Homo sapiens: one gene and its partners. The protein of the gene in region 3 purifies or fractionates together with the protein of the main gene of each other region. This does not show direct contact. Each region holds a gene or a part of one and is shown on either strand. Other genes may lie near its edges.

What was found.
Region 1: the proteins of C1QTNF9 (region 3) and P3H3 purify together in Homo sapiens (affinity purification with mass spectrometry; 4 studies listed by BioGRID and IntAct, with this or other methods). This does not show direct contact.
Region 2: the proteins of C1QTNF9 (region 3) and TSNAX purify together in Homo sapiens (affinity purification with mass spectrometry; 3 studies listed by BioGRID and IntAct, with this or other methods). This does not show direct contact.

Annotation. Positions count from the first base shown.
Region 1 is NC_000012.12:6,824,308-6,831,406, reverse strand, and holds the start of P3H3 (prolyl 3-hydroxylase 3 precursor), read right to left. Parts: upstream 3,001-7,099; 5' UTR 2,967-3,000; coding exon 2,469-2,966; intron 1,549-2,468; coding exon 1,396-1,548; intron 1,055-1,395; coding exon 853-1,054; intron 769-852; coding exon 637-768; intron 192-636; coding exon 55-191; intron 1-54. Other genes in the region: GPR162 (probable G-protein coupled receptor 162), read right to left, coding at 4,203-4,754, 5,054-5,211, 5,734-5,923, 6,642-7,099. UniProt on the Homo sapiens protein: Part of a complex composed of PLOD1, P3H3 and P3H4 that catalyzes hydroxylation of lysine residues in collagen alpha chains and is required for normal assembly and cross-linkling of collagen fibrils.
Region 2 is NC_000001.11:231,559,645-231,566,668, forward strand, and holds the end of TSNAX (translin-associated protein X), read left to right. Parts: intron 1-1,483; coding exon 1,484-1,611; intron 1,612-4,883; coding exon 4,884-5,261; 3' UTR 5,262-6,880; downstream 6,881-7,024.
Region 3 is NC_000013.11:24,304,971-24,312,584, reverse strand, and holds the start of C1QTNF9 (complement C1q and tumor necrosis factor-related protein 9A precursor), read right to left. Parts: upstream 3,006-7,614; 5' UTR 2,969-3,005; intron 1-2,968. UniProt on the Homo sapiens protein: Probable adipokine. Activates AMPK, AKT, and p44/42 MAPK signaling pathways.

The DNA of each region.
Region 1 (7,099 bases), on a different chromosome or scaffold from region 3:
GTCTATTTGTTTGATTTGGGGCTACCTCCCAGGTGAGCGTGGAGAGGGGATTACCTCTCTGGGTCCGAGGCCAGGTCTCGGCTCTCCCAGCTGGGCCTGGTACTGGTTCAGAGCCCTCTTGGCAGCCTCATCCTCCGGGTAGAAGAGCAGGACACTCAGGACATTTTCTATAGCCTGGGACAGATTGCCCACTGGAGAGGGAGCGACAAGGTCAGGGGTTGGGGGATGAATACTTAGAGCACATTGATCCTTGGGGCAGAGGCAGTGCTGGAGAAGGTGGTCTCCAGAGGCCAGACAGCTAACTCCAAGAGCCCCCTTCCCACTGGCAGACAAGTTCAGCTGCCGGTTCTTTCAAACACTGGTGCAAACATACCTTAGCTGGAGAGTTCAAAGAAGAGCAAGAGGGGGGAAAATAAAGGAAGGTGAGAAGCAGCAAGGCAGAAGGAAGCCCATCTCCTGAGCTTGTCACAGGCGCCAAAGGAGGGCAAATTAGAGTCCTTGTGAAGTGATGGTTCCCATGCAGCCCTGACAGTGAAACTACAAATCCAGAGACAGATGGGAGGGATAGAGAGATGGAGCTCAGGATAGCAGCAGAGGCAAATCTTCACTCCCCGTTTCCACCCTTCCCCAACTGACCCTGAGCATGGGCCTCATGTAGCCGCCTCAGCTGGTTGGGAAGGAAGTCTGGGACAGGGAAGCTGCGACCAGGGCGTGTGGCTGTTTCCCCCACACAGCGTTGCCGGCACTGCAGGACCTGAATCCAGTGTCCTGCAGAGGAAACCCATAAGCCATTCAGCTTGTTCATGCCCCTCCCTGGGCACCGACCCACCCCCTCACACACGGGACCCTTACCTGCAATGGCCTCATAGAGGCCCCCCTGGCTCGCAGCCCCATCCTCCTCTTCTTCAGCCCCCTGCTGCTCCTCAGGCCCCTCACAGTCAGCACGGCAGCTCTCCATCTGGGCCAGGCTCCCCTGAAGAGCCTCCTCTAGCCTGGGCAGTGCCAGTCCTGCCTCCTGGCGCCCCAGTAGCTCCAGGCCAGTGTCATAGGCTGCCTGTTGGGGAAGGGAGCAGTCAGTCACCTAAGATCCAGGGGTTGCCAAACTGGGAGGTAGAGAGGAGAGGGGTGTTGGTCTCATTTGGGGCAAGGACTCCATGTCCCTCTTCACCGTGGAGAAGAATAAGGGTGGGCCTCAGAATCATAATGTTAGAACATCAGATTTCAGTGATCATCCAGGAAGGAAACGAAGTCCTAGAGAAGGACTCCCAGCCAGGGTCGCTGAGGATCATTACCCCATCTGTATGCTCAAGCAGCACAACGCACAGTTTAGTGAGGCCTGTGTATCCAGCCAGGAAAAGGCTGGTGGCAAGACAGGGGTGGTGCTGGGATTCTCACCCAGTGTGGGGGCGTCTCCAGGTCCCGGAAGCTCTGGGGCCGAACTCCCGACATTCGTCTGTACTTAGCCATGTCCTCCCGCATCTGCAGGTGCATGGGGTTTGCTACAAAGAAGGTGTGTGCTGCCGCAGCTGCCAGATCCAGCTTCTTCAACTGAGGAGGCGAAGGGAGGAGGGCATCAGAGCCCTGGGACGGGGGGCAGACCTCTGCCCCCTGGCCAGCCTCCCCACCCTACCCCAGACACACACTCTGGGTGCCCCAGAGCCTCATGGAAGACTGGCCAATCAGAACCGCCCACCGCCCGAACTGCAGATCCCCTAGAGGCCAGAACGTTGGGACTCTCAGAAGGCTGGCACCGAGGGAAAGGGGATCTAAAGACGTCGGAGTTGGGTGGGACATGGGTCTCAGGACTTCAGGACCTCAATTTGGGAGACCAGGTGGAAGTGATGGCTTAAGTGAGGTGGGGAAGTGGGGGAGACCTCAGCGACCAGCAAAACCCGCAGGTCTCTAGGACCCTGAGCTGAGGTGAGTACAACCGGCGCCCCGCTTCCCCAGCCACGTAGGCAACTGCTGCGGTACCGGCGGCTGCGGCGTGCTGTCCCCTCCCCGCCCGCAGAGGTCTGGCCTCGGAGGACCCCAACCTTGCCTCCGTCTGCTCCTTCCTTTCCGAAGCTACCTCCTGCCCCAAGCGAAGGTTCACACTCACCACCACCCCCGACACACACACACACCCACGCACACTTCCCGTCCGAGAGCCGGTTTCGCCCCCACCGCCTCCGCTTCATTCCTAGGAAGAGGCGGCCCTGTCCCTCCATCTTCGATCTGCTCCCGTCCCACCTCACGACCTCCCCGCCCCATTCCCATTCTGCTCGCACTCCCCCTCGGCTGCTCCTCTGCGATCTCAAGAGGTCCTCGCGGTCGCTTAGCCAGCTCCTACGCAGAGGCCCGCGGTACGCTCCCCAGCCCCGTGCGGGGCCCGGGCAACAGCATTCCGCCTACTCCTGGGCAACGCAAAGTAGGACAGCGTCGTGGTGAGGGCTGGGACCCTCGGAGCTGCCCGGCCCGCTCCCCACCTGGTAATAGGCCCTCTGCAGGTAGTTGTAGGGCTCCCGACGGCGGAAGGCGTCCCGGAGCGCGCTCCCCACGCGAAGCCGCGCCGCGCCCCCGGGGCCCAGCCTCCGTGCTGCGCACTGGGTCAGGCAGTCTGCGCGGCGGAGCGCTGCACGGAGAAGCTGTCGCTCCCAGGACCCCTGCGTGGGTCCCGGCCCGGAGTCGGGCTCCGGGGCCCCGAGAAGCACGGCGGGGAGCGCGGCGCCCGGATCGGCCGCGCAGCTCGCCCCGCAATCCAGCCGCACCCGGCCCAGCGCCGCCTGGCTCCGCAGCGCCTCCCGCAGCAGCGCCACGGCCGGCGCCCAAGCCCCGGCCGCGTAGGCGCGCAGCCCGTCAGCGTAGAGCAAGTCGGGGGCCTGCGGGGGCGCCCCCGGGGACAGCTGGGTCAGGCCGGGGGGCTCAGGGGACCCCGGGGGAGGCAGCAGCAGCAGTAGCAGCAGCGGCCGGAGGAGCCGGAGCATGATGTCGGAGCCGCCGGCAGCCGAGGGGAAATGCGGGAGCCGAGAGGGAGGGAGAGGAAAGGGGGGAAGGGGAGGGAGGGGGAGGAAGGAGAGATGGAGAGGCGGAGGGAGAGGGAGAAATAATGAGGGAGGCCGAGAGAGAGAGAGAGAGAGAAGATGGGGCTGAGACCCGATGGTGGGAGAGGCCCATGTGAAAAGATGGAGAGAGAAGAGTGCTGAGTGGACAAAGCTGGTCTAGTGTGGAATAAGAGGGAGAAACTGGGAGGAGGAGGGCAAAAGGCGGGAACTGGAGCAGGCCTGGGCATCCATGAAGGATGACTTCAGCCCCAGCGGTGACTTCAGCCCCTGAGGTCTGGGGGTAACTACTGGGGCTGTGTTCCCTCCACACACACGCTTCTGGGTCCAGAAAAAGGAGTGTGGACGCCGATCCCCCCCTCGCCCCCCCCCACCCCCCCACACTCATCCACCCCTGCACTCCCACCCCCCCACACTCATCCACCCCTGCACTCCCACCCCCCCCACACACTCATCCACCCCTGCACTCCCCCACACACACACTCATCCACCCCTGCACTCCCACCCCCGCCCACACACACACTCATCCACCCCTGCACTCCTTTGGAGAAAGAGCTTTAAAATGCAGCAAGGAGGAGGTGTCCAGGCCCGGGACACTGCATCAGCCCCAAAACCTTTCCTGCCCATAAAGTGAGCCCCTGCATGGATTTGAGGTTAGAAGGAGAGTTGGGCACTGGGGCTGGAGCCACGCTCTAAAACCACCTCAACAAATCTGAACAGAGATCCTTCATACCCCAACCAACGAAGATGTGTGTCCTCAAGCCCCGCCCCCAGCAGGATATGCTCCTCCCAGCCTTCCCTGTGCGAGGCTGCCTGGTGGAGCATGTGATCATTTCTCCATGTGTCCTTCTGTGCCTCTGTCTGCTGCCCCTGCTCTGTCGTGTCCCCTGTGAGCCACTCCACCCTCCAAGCCCCTTTCCACCGCAGTACACTGGACACTGAGGTTTCCATGGCAACACTTCAGACTTTAATACATATTGCTAGGGGTGATGGAAGCTGAGTAGGGCATCTGGTCACTTGGATGGGAGAGAGCAGGGCCTTCTGAGCCCCAAATCTAGCGCCCGTCTCCCCAGAGTCTGGAGGCAGCTGCCCTACTCTCGGCCAGAATGAGGTGTTACTCACTCAGGCTTTCTCCTCTGAGTTCAGCAGGCCTGCTTGGGCTCACAGGGTCAGCTGGGGAAAGATGGGGTTGCCTGGGCCCCAGGATCCTCCCCAAGCCCTTGCACTTTCTTCACCCCCCGTCAGGGAGCAGCGTCTCCCTGCGCTTAGTCCCAAAGGAAGTCCAACGGCTCTGCTCTCAGGGGACCCAAGGGAGAGTCGGCGGGGTGAGAGGCCCAGTGGCCGGGGCCGACGAGGAGAGTGCCCTGGTGAGGCAGTCGGAGAAGGCAGAGGTGTCTCATCGATGAAGGTGGTGATCTCCTCCCGGAAGAAGCCAGGACCCCGTGGGGGTCCCCCACCTGACCCCAGAACCCCACTCTCCAAGAATTGGCGAAGGCTGGCCAGCCCCCCACCTTCAGCCTCTTCCTCGTCCTCCTCGTCCTCCAACCTGTGTCTTTGTCCCAGGTACTCAGGAGGACCCCCGAGGGCCCGGCTCTGGGCTGGGAGGACCCGGATGTCATCAGAGGATGACCACTTGTGCAGGAAGGAGCCTGGTTCCCGAGGGGTAGAGAAGATGTTTGTCTCATCATGGGACAGACGCCGGGATAGGGGGACCTGGGAAGAGGAGCGGGTAAGACCTGAAGGTGCTGCAGGGACAGAGGCAGAGGCAGGAACCAAGTGGGGACTCCGGAAGATGGTGCCACCTTCTTAACCTTCAAAACGTTTGCTCCGGTGGGCAAACCTGGCCCCACGAGGTCTGAAGGGATGCCTCTCTTGCTATAGCTTTCTTTCACCCAGCTCTATGGTGCCCTGAAAGCCAGGGCTAGGGAAGAGGGGATTGGGGTGCCTAACAGACACTGGAGAAAAGTGATGAGCGGCACCAAGGGTAGGAGATGTATCCCCCAGTTCCATACCTGTAAGTAGTGGACTCTCTCAAGAGGAGGGAAGAGCATGTGCCTTCCAGGCAGCAGCTTCACCTGGGCGGGGTCCCGGCTCCCTGGTCCTGTGGCTCCGTTAGCATCAAAGCGAACTTTGCAAACTCGGCCCTCTGCATAGTCGTCACAGCCCCCATCTAGGAGAGAAAATGGGCAGAGTGGTTACAGGTAGGGAATGCCTACCGCGGCCTCCCACCACTGCCTTTATAAGCTCCCAGAGACCCCTTTAGTTCCCATTAGCATGTATGTTCCAAGAGGACAGTGAGAGTGGCTAGCATTTGCTGCGTTCAGTGCTAAATCCTGAGTGGAGTGCTTCATACATATAGATGAAGTTATTGAAACAATTGCCTGCACTCCCCCAAGAGCCGTCCCTATAGCTGGGGGGCCTCTCTCGGGAAGCTCAGGTTCCCCATAGTGCCAGAGCTGGGCAGTGTGGGTTTCTGGAGGGGAGCCTAGGCCCAGTGAAGGGAGCCCTGAGTGCTGCGGGAAGCAGTGAGTGGACAGCAGGGTGCCTGCTTAGGGAAAGGGGAGCCCAGGGTGGTGCAGATTCTGTCCAGTAGGGGGCACTCCAGGGCAGCCCATCCTCTGGCTGAGAAGGAGCGGCAGAAAAGGGAATAGACAGATGTCCAGGAAAGCCAAAGCCCAGCCCCTCCTCTGACCGTCATCTCCATCCTCCTCAGACATGATGGCCACGCATTGCTCCCACACTGTGCGCACGTCGGCGCGGTAGCGCTCGCAGGACCAGATGAAGGAGGGCAGCAGCAGCGTCTGTGCCATGGAGCACCACAGCACAGCCAGCACCATCCAGGGGGGCGCCGAGTCCGACTTGAGGGAGAAGAAGCTCACCACCTGGGGAAGGGTGGGAGCGGGCTGGGTCAGGGCCAGAGCTGAGGAGCCCACCTGAACCCCATATCCTAGTGCAGCTGGTGGGCAAGACGTCAGAAGTAATGCCTGATCCCTGTGCTCCAACAGAGGCGAAGCCGGAGGTGGAGATGGAGTGAACAGAGGGAAGGGACTGACTCAGAGGAAGGTCGGGGAGAGTGCTGGAGACAAAGCCCTGCGGTCAGGAGGGAGAGGAACAGAGGTGGACCAGGAACCGTAGAGACAGACAGGAACCCAGGAACAGTGACTAGATGGGGTGGTGGGGTGAGCCCTGTGGGATTTCCAGCCAAGAGTGCTCAGAGACCATGTGGCAGCCCGAGGGAAGGAGGGAATGGAGAGTGGAGCCCAGCGGCTGGATGAGAGGTCTGCGGCTGAACCGTGGAGCTGCAGGATGGATGACGGAGCTGGAGGACAGGTCGTGGAACTGAAGGACGGTGATGGAGCTGAGGAGTGGGAACTGAAGCAGATGCTGGAGCTGGGGTAAACAGGGTAGTGGGAACTAAAAGACAGATGATCAAGATGGGGGCCACAAATGGAGTGGGGGATGGACAGAGGAGAGGAAGATGGATGATGGAACTGGAGGAGAGATGACGGAGCTGCTGTATGGCTGATGAAGTTGGAGGTCAGGTGATGATGCTGGGGCCTGGATATTGGGGAGAACAGGTGGGGAGGACCCCGATCTCACCAAGATGGGCACCCCTGTGAGTGAGTCATAGAGAAAGACGATGGCGCTGACCAAGTTGGTGACCTGCAGGGATGTCTTGGCAGACTCCGAGCCATCCAGCGAGGACCGCCGCTTCCCTCGGGCATCCTCCACCACAATGGCTGGTACCTCAAAAGCTGGCCGGGTACCCAAGGCCCCTGGCCCACCCGCTTTGGTCCCCCCACCACCCCCCACTCTCCGGGCCTGCCGAGCCCTCCGGGGCCGGGCCCACAGTGTCTGGTAGAAGGTGATGGCCACACAGACCAGACCCATGACAATTCCCCCAAGTAGCAAGAGGCTGAAGCAAACGCCAAAGCCGAGGCCGATCTTGGAGACTATGAACTGGCAGCCGCGGGCATAGTAGCGCTCGCCGTTGTTGTGCCAGCCAATGGAGGGCAGTGTGGAGAGGATGAAGCTGACCATCCAGATGCCCATGACGG
Region 2 (7,024 bases), on a different chromosome or scaffold from region 3:
AAAACACTTGGAAAAGTATAGTACTGTAGACATGTAACAAAATTGCACTTGTGCCCTTTACATTTATATAAACATTTTTAAAAGTATTTAAGTTACATTTTGATCTTTACCAAAATTTACTCTTCAATTCAAGGGTTGTTTCTGTCTTGTACAAAATTGTATTGCATAGCTCTCTTTTTTTTTTCTTAAACTACCAAAGCAGAAAGGAGTTATCTAGTCTTAGATCCATTTTGAACTATGAAAAGATAAACGGTATTTTGACACTTACCTACATTAGTTAAAAGTGATTTTGCCTATTAAAACTTTAAGAAAGATCCAAATTATTATTATTATTATTATTATTTTTTTTTTTTTGCGACGAGTCTCGCTCTGCCGCCTAGGCCGCAGTGCAGTGGCATGATCTTGGCTCACTGCAAGCTCTGCTTCCCGGGTTCACGCCATTCTCCTGCCTCAGCCTCCTGTGTAGCTGGGACTACAGGCGCCCGCCACCACGCCCGGCTAAGTTTTTTTATTTTTAGTAGAAATGTGGTTTCACCATGTTAGCCAGGATGGTCTGGATCTCCTGACCTCGTGATCCACCCGCCTGGGCCTCCCAAAGTGCTGGGATTACAGGCGTGAGCCATCGTGAACGGCCCAAATGATTCTTAATTTTATGTCTCATTTGTTTGAATCATTGCTTCGTTACCCAGCAAAATAAAACAAATTAATTTATATAATTTTTATTAAAGCCTATCAAAATTATGGAATAGGCTTTTCTTTTCTCCCCCCCCCCCCTTTTTTTTTTTTTGAGACGAAGTCTCGCTCTTGTCCCCCAGGCTGGAGTGCAATGGTGCGGTCTTGGCTCACTGCAACCTTCGGCTCCTGGGTTCAAGCGATTCTCCTGCCTCAGCCTCCCGAGTAGCTGGGATTACGGGCTCCTGCCACCACACCCGGCTAATATTTTTTGTATTTTTAGTAGAGATGGGGTTTCGCCATGTTGGCCAGGATGGTCTCAAACTCCTGACCTCAGGTGATCCGCCCACCTCAGCCTCCCAAAGTGCTGGGATTACAGGCGTGAGCCACCGTGCCCGGCCAGAATAAGCTTTTCTTAAATCCTAATTACTTAAACTCTTAAAAAAATTTTTTTTCTGGCTGGGCACAGTGGCCCAGAGATTACAGGCGCCCGCCACCATGTCCAGCTAATTTTTGTATTTTTAGTAGAGTTGGGGTTTTACTGTGTTGGCCAGGCTGGTCTCCATCTCCTGACCTGAAGTGATCCACCCGCCTTGGCCTTTTAAAGTGCTGGGATTACAGGCGTGAGCCACCGCGCCTGGTCCCCAGGCCATTCTTTCTATTCTAAGTGTCTAGTCTAGTACTGGCATTGTAGTAGGCATCCATTAAGCTTTTTTTTGAACTAGATGATGATCAATATGAAGTTTTTTTATTATGACATTCTTACTAATTAAGTGCTTATTCTTAGTAATTTTCTTTGTCACGCTTTCAGGACTACAGGAATATGTGGAAGCTGTCTCTTTTCAACACTTCATCAAAACACGATCATTAATTAGTATGGATGAAATTAATAAACAATTGATATTTACGACTGAAGACAATGGGAAAGAAAATAAAACTGTGAGAATTTAAAATTTATTTCACATTTGTTATATAATTTATGTAACAGTATGACGATTCTAGTAGATTTACTGGCTTATGCTAAGATTGAGATGGGAATGTTCTTTCTAAAGTATGGTTTTGTAGAGTCTCAACTAGGAAATGGTCTTTTTAAATATTTCAGTTAGTGGATAGAACAAGAACAACTCTGGGCATATTGGGAAAGTAATGCTCTTTACCTAAAGCATTATGGAGTGCTTACTGTAAGTCCTCTTTTGGTTTTACTCTCTATTTTTCACTTGCCCTTTGTAAGCACTGTCTTATTTAATCCTTTTATTAACCATATGTGGTAAGCATTATTACTCTCATTTTACAGAGAAAGAAACAGACTTTTAGAGAGGTTAAGTAACTTGCCAGAAGCCACAACTAAAAAGTGTGGCAGAGCTAAGATTTGAAGTTAGGTATTTTGAATCCAAGCCTGTGCCCTTGTCCACTCTGCCAGCGCTTCTCACAGTGTGCTACAGGGATCCCTTGCATCAGGTACCTACCTCAAAGGGTTGTTTTAAAGGATTTGACTTAAAGGTTATTAATTAGGCAATATACAGCAGCACCTGACACGTAATATACATTATATACAGCACCTGACACGGAAGTGCTCAGTAGTTTGCCATTATAAAGTAGTTTTTATATAGTGAGAGCTGTTAATCATTTACTCAATTCATAATGCTTATATCTGAAATTTATGTAGCTTTTCTGAATTAAGAAAAACTTTGCAGTTTGACTTTTAAACAAATACTATTTTTTTCCTTCTGGGTTTCAAGATATAACAGGCAGTAAGGTAAGCTGTATTGACTATTTGATACTTTCTGAGATACCAGTACACTTAAAATTAAATATTTTAAAATAATTTATATTATTTAAATAATTGTTTAAATATTAAATTATTAAATTATTAATTTAATTTACTAAATATTAAATATTTAATTATTTTAAAAATTTTCTTTATTTTTTCTTTTAAAAATTATTTTTAAAAACACCATATATTAAGGATAGGTAGGCAGGAGATGGAAGACACTGTAGAAATAATATTTTCTTGAATATCAACTAAAATATTAATACAAATGAGACTAATTTGGCATGACAGGTATAACTTACTTTAAGGAAGCCATGTATTAACTTTAAGTTATATGAAGTGTATTAAGGAGGAAATTTATTTTGAGAAGTAAAATTTCTTCATATTTTTTATTCATATAGTGTAGACTGAATTACACAAAGAAGTAAAGTAGGTCTATTTGACCCTGCTTCTCACGTGATATTAGGGAAGTTACCACACTTTCCTTTAAAGTTCTCTGTGTATCAAAATGAAAATATTGGGGAAAAGGCCAGAAAATTGAGAGTCAAAGTACTGTTTTCAGGACTTAGGTACCAGATTATTTTAAGATTATGGGGCTATAATATTCATATACATGTTTCAAATTGTATAAGACTATGTTCATAAATAAGTTTTAGTGCTAAAGATGCTTGGTGCTGAAATTTCTGGGAATTTGATTGGGAAAGGTATTTTGCTCTGACTTGCCTGTTGAGAATATTGTCAAAACTATTTAATTTTTATTTTAAAAAGTTTTGTGAAAAATTTCAAACATGCAGAAAAATAGAATGGAAACATTAGTGCCACTAACTAGCTATCATATTCCCATAGCTCAACGTCATATTACCTGTGATGTTTCTCGGACCTCATTTCTCATGCTAAATGATGAGGACGTTGCACCAAATGGTCTCTGCAGAGTCCAAACAGTGCTAGGATTCAAGTATTAGATACATAGCAAAGAGTGATCTTAATAAAGCTGTCTCCCTTGTCTCAGCTTATATTTATGTAACTTCCTTTAAACTTTACTCAAAAGAATTATCTCATTAGTTCCTCAAATGCACAATTCTTACCTGTATGCCTTTGTAGTTCCCACTACCTAAAATGTCCTTTGATGTAACTGCAACTTCACCTACCCTTTTATACATACCGTCTTTTAATAACAATTTAGGCATCGTCTCTACCAGAAAGAATTCAGTAGAGGGAAATTGATGTGGAGAGAGATTTCATGATGATATCATGATAGCAGCTAGCATTTGTTGAATATTTACTTTGTGTTGGGCATTATGCCAAGAACTTGGTAAATGTTCTCATTTAACCCTTAAAATAAACCTCTGAGGTAGGTACTGTTATCCCATTTTACAGATGAGGAAACTGAGGTTTAGAGAGATGAAATAACTTGCCCAAGGGCATACACCTTATGAAGCAAGGTCCTGGAAGAGGTGGGAGGAGATGGGTCAAGGTCATTTGGAAGAGTTAACCTCAAACAAGAGGAGGGACAACTCATCATCTGAGACTGGAGGATAGAAGGTAAAGATGGGTGTGGATATAAATTTTTTTTTTTTTTTTTTTTGGTAGGGATAAAGGCAGTTGTGAGAAATTGTGCTAGGTAAGCTGGCAAATGACCAGGTCACTGAAATTGGGCAAGGTTGTCTACTGAAAGTGAAGAGGTTTGGGATTTGAGTAGAGCCCTGAGGAGAGTGGTGAAAGGTTTGAAATTGTGTTTGAAGAGGCTGGAAAGAGAACCATCTAATGATAAGTAAAAGGATTGGAGAGTAATTTGTAGCGGTACAGACTCTGCAGTTGTGATTACCATTTTTTTTTAACTCAGTGAGTGGTACTCAGCCACCTGAATAAAGGACTAATGAGTATATTTTAGTATTGATTGAGGATTCTGTTTTTGCTGGGTAGGTGCAGTAGAAAATATAGCAGTCTAAGGGAATTGAGGATGCAGTGAGAGAATAATAAATTGTGATGGTGAGTGCTGAATAGGGAAAGACAAGAAGCCAGAAAAAGACTGAGCTTCTTAGGAAAACATTAATGGATCACAAACTTGGAGGGCTGTATGGTTTTTCATTTAAGAAAGTAATTGTCGTGCAATAAAGTTATTAAGCCTTGTTCAAGAATATTTTTATTTTGTACATCAAGTGGAGTTGGAAATAGTTGGTTTCATAATGATATATTTCAAAAGTATCTTGAAGTCATCTGGTTCATTTCACTACCCAGGGCACACATTCCTCCTGTAACATCCCAAGTGGTTATTAAGCAAAACAGATTTATTTTATTTAGAAAAAATTAGTATGACTGATTTGCTATTGATTTTGTACTTCTATAATAAATGTGATACATGCTATATTCACTCTTTTTCACAGTGTTCTTTCTTGTGTGTGTGTGTGTGTGTTTTTGTTTTGTTTTGTTTTTTTACCAGCCCTCCTCTGATGCACAGGATAAGCAGTTTGGTACTTGGAGACTGAGAGTCACACCTGTCGATTACCTTCTGGGAGTGGCTGACTTAACTGGAGAATTGATGCGGATGTGTATTAACAGTGTGGGGAATGGGGACATTGATACCCCCTTTGAAGTGAGCCAGTTTTTACGTCAGGTTTATGATGGGTTTTCATTCATTGGCAACACTGGACCTTACGAGGTTTCTAAGAAGCTGTATACCTTGAAACAAAGTTTGGCCAAAGTGGAGAATGCTTGTTATGCCTTGAAAGTCAGAGGGTCAGAAATTCCAAAACATATGTTGGCAGATGTGTTTTCAGTTAAAACAGAAATGATAGATCAAGAAGAGGGCATTTCTTAGAATCTAACGTTACTCAGTTACTAATTCTTTTGAGAACTCCTAAGAGACCAATTTGTAAGACTTATTTAGTATTTCATTTAACTTTATTGTGGCTTTTACATAGAAACATATTCAGTTGTACTTGTTTTAAATTGTATACAAGCTGTACATAAAATTAGCCAAATGAATCATTTCTTATATCTTATTCATGAAAGTTTGCATACAGATGTTTGCATATATGCCTTTTTGAATTTTTGCTGGTTAACCTTTATCATTTATCTTTGTAATGTGAACATGCTTCAGAGTGTACCTTTTGCCATAACCTATTTTAATTTACTTTTTCTGAAGTTTGGAGTGATAATTTTTAGTGGAAGCAATTTGTAATTTAAGTTGGTAGTTATATTATATATAGAAAAGATTTTTTAGTTAAACTTCTGGACATGAGCGTCCTGTTTAAATTTCTTGTTAATATCGTGCCAAGCCTCAAAAATAGGCTTATTCCATGGAACAAGAATTAAAAATGAATAAGCTATCAATATATAATTTAAGTACAAGTTTAGGCTGGGCGTGGTGGCTCACGCCTGTAATCCCAGCACTTTGGGAGGCCGAGGTAGGCAGATCACGAGGTCAAGAGATCAAGACCAGCCTGACCAACGTGGCGAAACCTCGTCTCTACTAGAAATACAAAAATTAGCTGGATATGGTGGTATGTGCCTGTAATCCCAGCTACTTGGGAGGCTGAGGCAGGAGACTCGCTTGAACCTGGGAGGCAGAGGTTGCAGTGAGCCGAGATTGCGCCACTGCACTCCAGCCTGGGTAACAGAGCAAGACTCCATCTCAAAAAAAGAAAGAAAGAAAAAAGAAAGTACAAGTTTATAAAGTATTATAGTGAAAAATTCGCATTCTGGCTGATTTTAAGCCATTTAAAATTTATATAAAACAACCTTCCATAAAAATTTGACAGGTGCCCAGATGTTGCTTTCTCCATTTATTTTTTGTTTTTTTTTAATCACAGTAGGTCTGATAGAGAATTGGAGCTAAATTATAATATTTTTGTTGGTAAAGTTGAGTTATATACTTGTACATACAATGGAAATGCTTTTAGTAGTGATTATTTAGCAATTTTTGTTTTTGTTATATTAGGCATGTTTGGAGGCTTTCCTATTCTAGCATTTAAATTTAAATTTTATTAAAATTAAATAATTTAAATCTAGCATTTAAATTTAAATAATTTAAGTCTAGCATTTACTTTTAAATAATTATAATGAAGTTTTGAAATACTAAGTTAATCCAGACCTTTAGTTGTCCCATGGTGTTAATAAAGTTGCCAAAGAAGATGTATTATGAACAATTCAGCAATAAGACAATTGTCAACACAGTTGAGAATAACAATGGTAATCGTTAGTAATATTTAGAATTGGAATTTGCCTACTGAAATAGTTATAGATGATTACTTGTGATGTGAAACTGAATTGAGCATGACAACCAGACATTTCCAGTTGGTTTTGTAAGTTTTGAGAATCTAGATACTGGGTTTTATTTTTTGAAAGATTAGCTCTGTTTGTAAGGGCTGATTCCTTGAAAATGTAATTTTCCAGAAAAACACCTAAAGAAAATAAAACATGGACATGCCTAGTAAATTCTGTTTTTTTGTTTGTTCGTGTTAGTGATGGTGGGTTTTTTGGTTTTGCAACTCACCTGTAGTCAACTCACTACAGGTGAGTTGGTGCCATTGCTACTGATATATCTCCACAGTTCATGTCATACTAATACTGTGGGTGTTA
Region 3 (7,614 bases):
AGGAATATAGAAGAAATTATATTAATGTTATTTTGAAAAATAAAAAATTACATTTGTGCCTCTCACAAAGCTATGGGTTGGACCCTCAGTTTCATTAGTTCAACTACAGTTACACTCTTGACTTTTAATTTCTGGGTCTGGTCTTTTCCCAGAAGGCACTAGAGCTAGGAGCCTCTTCTGTCTCCCATCTTTCCCTGCAATCATCCACTCTCTCTCTCATCTGAATTACTGTCCTCCCCAGTCCCCACTTACTCTGTACACCACACCTAGACTAATGATCACTTAGTAGGCACCAACCTGGGTTAGAGCTTTATGAAGATGGTGACTGCATTTTTCTACTTCCTTATTTTCAGTCAAGTATTTGTTGAATGAATCAATGCAGGCATGCAAGAAATACTATCCTGGTTCCAACTGTGTGTGGACCATCACTTGGGAAGGTGACTGGGTATCAACTCTGATCCTTGTCAGTGCTTTCGTGGAGTTGCTAGTAATCTCCAACACCCCTTCTCACCTTCATCCAGAGTAATAGAAATTTTAGCTGGGCTTCTAGGGGCCCATGATAGACTGCACTCCCTAGCCTCCCTTGCAGCCTGGGTATGACCATGAGCTAGATTACGGGCCATGGGGATGAGCAAAAGTGAGACGTGTAATTGTGTGCAATGACCGGCCTTAAAGGGTAAGGGGGTGCCCTTTCCCGCTTCCTGTGGGGGGGTGTGCATGGCATGGTGAACCATGTGGGACTCCTTGAAGGAGGGCAACAATTTGGGGATAGAAAAACCCCTGGCCTCAGATGACTCCACAGACCAGACCTGCCAGCACATCTTTGACATAAGCATATGAAACAGAAATAGACTTCTATCTTGCATAAGCCACTGTTATTTGGGGTCTTGACACACAGCTGAGCCCACATCCTAATTCAAGGCATGCGCTGCCCAAGGTGCGGCCGCTCTTCAGAAGTGAGGAGGCTTGCAGACATCTGTAGTCAGCCAGAGTGACAGCTGCTGGGGACTCACTGGGCATACAACCCTCCCAGTAATATATGTAAAAAGCGACAACAGTCACTGCCTTGGACAAATCAAGACAAGATCTCTATACATTGATATCATATGTATGTATAGAGAATAGAGGCCATCATTCTGCAGAATGCTGTGACCGCATGAGCCAGACATACTGGCATGGTCAGGGCAAAGGGACACAGACTGCAAATAACTTTGAAGTTAATGTTTTTTAGTCCCCCCAAAATAGTGTTCTTATTTAGTTCACTTATTTCTGACTCATTCTCCGATTCTTTACCTATATCTGTCCTTTGCTAAAGAATCTCTTGATAAATGGTCACCCAGTGCCCTCTTCCTGATTAATTTTCTCCAAGAACATCATATCCTTAATTCTACAGCCAAGGTTATCACTCCTCAAGATTCTTAACTCTCCAAAACTAAGATTTAATGTAAACCTGCTAGAAATCAGCTGAGTGATATCTCCTGGGTTTCCAAACCTCAGAGCCTCAGCTTCCTCCTGCATGCACTGGAAAGGACGAATGCCCTCCCGGATCTGACGATCTAAGAGTCAAAATAGCTCTAGGCTGCCTTCATCGAATATATTGTCTTCCATGCACTCTCTATATTACACACTTTATACATTTCTTCAACATATCTTTTTTTTTTTTTTTTTTTTTTGAGACAGAGCCTCGCTCTGTTGCCCAGGCTGGAGTGCAGTGGCGCGATCTCGGCTCACTGCAAGCTCTGCCTCCTGGGTTCACGCCATTCTCCTGCCTCAGCCTCCCGCGTAGCTGGGACTACAGGCGCCCACCACCACGCCTGGCTAATTTTTTGTTTTTTAGTAGAGACGGGGTTTCACCTTGTTAGCCAGGATGGTCTTGATCTCCTGACCTCATGATCCACCCGCCTCAGCCTCCCAAAGTGCTGGGATTACAGGTGTGAGCCACCGCGCCCAGCCTTCTTCAACATATCTTGACAGTTATTTTTTTCCTGCACTGTAAATTAGCATAGCCATAAAAATGAAAATGTGTACAATCTGAATATGATGAACCTGATCAGGAAAAAAAAGTACACATTAAAATTTGTGCAAAATAATCTATAAGCTTCTCTAGAAAGCTCTCTTAAAAAGATCCATCATAGGCCGGGCGTGGTGGCTCATGCCTGTAATCCCAGCACTTTGGGAGGCCGAGGCAGGCGGATCACGAGGTCAGGAGATCGAGACCACAGTGAAACCCCGTTTCTACTAAAAATACAAAAAAAAAAAAAAAAGTAGCCAGGCGCGGTGGCAGGCTCCTGTAGTCCCAGCTACTCAGGAGGCTGAGGCAGAAGAATGGTGTGAACCCGGGAGGCGGAGCTTGCAGTGAGCTGAGATCCTGCCACTGCACTCCAGTCTGGACAACAGAGTGAGACTCTGTCTCAAAAAAAATCCCAGCACTTTGGGAGGCCAAAGCGGTTGGATCATAAGGTCAGGAGTTCAAGAGCAGCCTGGCCAAGATGGTGGAACCCCATCTCTACTAACAATACAAAAATTAGCAGGGTGTGGTGGCCCATGTCTGTAATCCCAGCTACTCGGGAGACTGAGGCAGATAATTGCTTGAACCCGGGAGGCGAGGTTGCAGTGAGCTGAAATCATGACACTGCACTCCAGCCTGGGCGACAGAGCAAGACTACATCTGAAAAAAAGAAAAAAAGCCCACTATTCTTATGACTTATTCTATGGTTTTTCTCTCTCCTCCCAGCCAATTGCAGAGTTCCAGCAGAAGAATTTCAAAATCTGCTTTTATCTCCTCTTTAGCCTCTTCCTCAAGAATGAATTTTGAAAGCGGCTTACCCCTTTCCTACCCAAAACTGTATAGACATCTGACTATTTTGCAAATAACTAAGCAGGATTATCCCACAGATAATATAAGCGTTGTTTTAGGACCTAGATGGCTTAAATTGAATGTAAAGAAATCCTTTCCTGATGAACTTACCTGGACCCTAGGGCTGCAGGCTGGACCCAGATACTGTGCAAACCAAGAATCAAGGGCCAGCTAAATAAAATCAGCCTTCCTGCCATACAATTCCCCAGTGGATATGTCTGCAAAATAGCAGGAAGGGGAGGGAACAGAGGAAGGCCAAGATGTCTTGGAAGAGCTTCAAGAATTACAGCAACACGTAAATCAGGTAGCATATTCTACCAGCACCACTTAGTTTAGAAAAGTTAAATCCTTTTGAATGAAATGAGGGAATACTTTCAAGGGGAGTCTGAAGGAAGGAGTGCCCCAGGCAGGTTTCTTTCATATATATATATATATATATATATAATACTTTAAGTTCTAGTGTACATGTGCACAACGTGCAGGTTTGTTACATATGTATACATGAGCCATGTTGGTGTGCTGCACCCATTAACTCCTTTCTTTTTCAAAGTGATGTTCATGCCTTTGCTTCAGTGCTTCTCCCTGACCTTGGGGTAATTACGGGCAACAGGACAAAACTGAAGGCTGCTAACTGTTAAGTGGCTGGGTCTCATTTGGATCCCGGACCATTAGAATTCCTACCGCTTAATTAGATTTTCAGATGGGTGTGTCGTAATGCCTTACGAGTTTAGGCATTTGTGTAGGTAAGGATTCAGTGTCCATTCCCCTCTCACAATCACACACTCCACCTACCACGGAGAACGCGGTGCAACCATTTGTTCAATGCCAGTAATCATGGACTCACTTTCCTCGTGTCTAGTAGTAACATTTATCTAAAACTTACAGTAGCTTCCAGAGGACAGAGGAGCCCAGCCCGGTTTCCCGAGATGCCGCAGTGCACGCAGCAGGAGCAGAGGCCACGCACAGAGCAGGAGGCCACGCAAAGAGCAGGAGCAGAGGCCGGGTGTACGGGTGGGTGCGGGGCTCACCCCAGCTCGGCGGCGAGGCCACGCACAGAGCAGGAGCCCACGCACAGAGCAGGGGCAGAGGCCGAGTGTACGGGTGGGTGCGGGGCTCGCCCCAGCTCGGCGGCGCCGACTCCCTCTCCCGCCTTACTCGCCCCCGTGCCTCAATTTCCCCGTCAGTGCAGCGGACATGACAATGCCGTGGTCCCAGGTGGGCGGCGGGATCTAATTAGTCGGTGTAAAATGAGTGAGATCTGGCTTCTCCCCGGCACCCCGCAGCCTGCCCCCACTCTTGGTGGCTAAACGCAAGGAGCCCCTGAGTCCCAGCTCCGCTGGGGGCTCTCAGCAGTTCTGGCCGGGCTCCCTCTTGCTCGCGTGGCTGGTCTCTGACCCCTGCACCGCAGGCGGCCCCGACGGAACGCGCGACGGGTCCCCGACCTCCTGCTGGGGACACCCGTCTCGCTGCCCGGCCCTTCCCCGCTTCCCGCGCCTCTGCGCCCCGGAGAGCTCTGAGACAGGACCACCTGGGCAGCCTGCCGGCCTGGACCTCTGCCTCAGAGCCAGCGACGGAAGCACAGCCTCGGGCCTCCACCGGCCACGCGCTCCCCATTCCGGGCTCTCCCACGTCTGCACACTCCAGCCCAGCCACGCGGAGAGGCTTCCAGAACCTGCCCTGCGGCCCCGCTTTGCTGACACCCCACTCACTCCGTGGGTTCTTCCTCCCGCCAGGACCCTGCCGGGGCCTGGGGTCCGTGGGAAGCCGGCTCAGGAATCAGGATCCTGGCCTCCTGCTTACAGGGAAAAGGGCTCCATCCTCCTGGTGTTTCCCGACTGCAGCGCCTCCAGCCTCCGGGGCTGCTGCGGCCCAGGTTCAGCTGGGTTCACTCCAGCTTTGCTGGTCTCGCCAGTGCAGAGTAGGGGCGCGCTTATGACCTAACGGTCATCTCCCCACAACTCTCCTGGAAGAAAATGCCACCCCCATCTCTTTCACTGTGTCCTATACATGGAGCCACTATGCTCTGCCCTATGGGTTCTGGGGCTCGCCCCCTCCCCACCCTAGCGACCGCCCTTCCCCAGTGCAGCCCAAGGTTGGGAGGAGCAGATCACTTTGGGAAGCAGGTGGATATTAAGAGTAAACAAAAAGTGGGCAGTAGCCACTTGGCAGCCTTCATAGGAATCCTTTTCTGATTACAGCCACAGCAAACAATGGGCTGTTGACTTAGCTCTTCTGAGCTGTTGGAGAAGGAAATTCTAATCTACCCACCCGCAAAGGGCGAGTGAGCAGGGCCACTAGCACAGCTCCTGTGGCAGGGCCTAGCCTTCAGGGGCAGTCAGAGGGCACAGTCTGTTGTTCTGTCTCCTCTCCATGATCCCTAGCAAAAGCGGCCCCGCCCCACTGCTCCCTTCCGCATCCCTCTTACTCCAACCACTGACGTTTCTCAAGCCAGGGTGCCCTCCGAGGTTGCCCTCGGAGCCCCCCTTCTCCCACGCCTACCCAGTGGTTACATGGAGCTCCTGAATGGATGAGTTGTTGCCACTGAGAAGTCTAGGGACATCAGGGCAGCAGAGGAGCTACAAATCCCAGAAGCCCCCGCACCCAGCTCTCCACTTCCTCCTTTTAAAGGCTGCTACTCAAATGCATCATCAGAACGAGTTTGGCAAATGAATTTTAATATACAAAACAACAAATATAGATTCACAGCATTTAAAAAAATCATTCAAATAACATTGTAAATAATTTTTTTTTACAAAAAACTTCAACAAAAATACATATCAAGTTACATCAATCTTGTACACTATACTTTGGCTGTCAACAGCAAATTCCTCAGTTCAGAAGTCCCATTCTTTGACCTATACAGATGACACATCATCTTGAAGTTAATGAGCTAAAATGTTGCCCAAAGCCTTGCAAAGTAGGTTAGCGAGTCATACAGAATGGACACTAATATTTACAAAAAAAGATTAGAAAGATTAAAAGTATTTTCTAAATATAAAATGTCAGTGCCTGTGAGATAACTAAAGGCAACAATGTAAAGTATGTTGTAGCTAAGTAAACTTGTATCAAATATTTAAGCTTTTGCTTTTTTTTTCAAGATCAGTCATGTTCCACTTATTTTTCCAAAGCCTTTTGAAATCCACTTTCATTGCATCCTGAAAACAATGAGACTTTAATAGAACAATTTGCAGATTAGGTTATTATGGGAAAGCTGGGTCTGCTAGTAGTTTCACCTAGTTGACTTGGGTCCTCCATTTCTGGCCTGTGAGCTGGTGAAAGGACATTTATTCATACTTCTTGACACTCCTTTGAGGGACAATTCTAAGTTTCTTCTCTCCCTGACAAGTAATAGTGCAGAAATACTCCCCCTAACTCCAGGTAATTATGCTGTTCTATTCTGACTGGGACACCAAGTTGATCTGCATGAAGGAGTATCAGCAATTTGGCTTGCAGAGATTTCCACCTGATAAAATGCTGGTTCAGCTGGCTTTTACAAAATACTTATATTGTGAACCAAATTTTGAATTAAATGCACTTTGCTTTATGTCTAGATAACAGTCATGTAGGATGGGGGGATTTTCTGAATAAGAATGGCATCGGTTTTCATCTAGGCTAGGTATAAAAAGGCACAATATTCAGAAATAGTGTTTGATGGTGGTGAAATGTTTTCAACTACAAAATCAGATCTACAGTGGGAAACAAAAATCAGATCTAATGAAAAGAAACCATGTGGCTGGTATCCCAGGGAAGCTCCAGCATACTACTGCTGCCCTCTTTCTAGTCCGCAGGCCAAAGACAAAGAAATCTACTGCTCCAGGATTCTGCAAACATTCAATTTTATGATTTTATAATTGCTTTTAATCTACGGCAGGGTTTTTATATGTTTTAGGTATGATCACAATTGAAAAGGTTGCTTTTGACCCAAGGCTACTTCAATTATCTTCTAACAAAGTCGACCAATTCTGAAACGTGAAGAATGGAATAGGTGAAATTCATCAAAATGTTATGTCATCTTTTCTTTTCTTGGCCCATCTATAATATTATGTAAAGTAAGGTTAAAAAGAGAGAAAGGCATAGAGGCGGGAGAGAGCAAGATTCCCAATGAAATTCATACACTGTCCATGGAGGAGGCTCTCTGTTCCCTTTCTTTCCAAGTGGAACACGTGACTCAAATCAGGAAGGAAGTTTGGCAAATGGAAGATGAGAATACTTGAGCCTTCCATTCTTGAAGAACTCAGGCATGTGGTAATAAAACCCAAGCCAGACATGCAGATTTTCAAGAAGTCAAAGGATGTTCTAGCCTTTTAAAAATGTTAGCAGTTTTCAAAATCACCTGAACATCCAAGTAGGATCCACCCAGGAGAGATCTTTAATGGAGTGACCCTCACACTCTATAAAACTGACAGGGGCAACGAATTGAACCTGACTTAACAAAAACACATCCTGGTATTCATAAGTCTCTGTTAGGAAGTCCGTGGAGGTAGGTGGGAGCCGGAAGTTAGGGCTCAGCTGGAAAATAAATTAGGACTGGCCACAAAATGCAAACCATTTCTTCATTACCCATGAATAAATATTAGGAAATGGAAGTCCTAAGAATGACTCTTAAACTGAATCCTCACTGAAAATGTAACACAAGCAAATGATTCTCTTTACTTCCTTAAACTAATTCTCTTATATTACATTTAAAACAATTTGTTCAAAATTGCTGTACATACAAACAACTCTAGCAGAGACCCCTACAGTTATTGCTAAGGTGT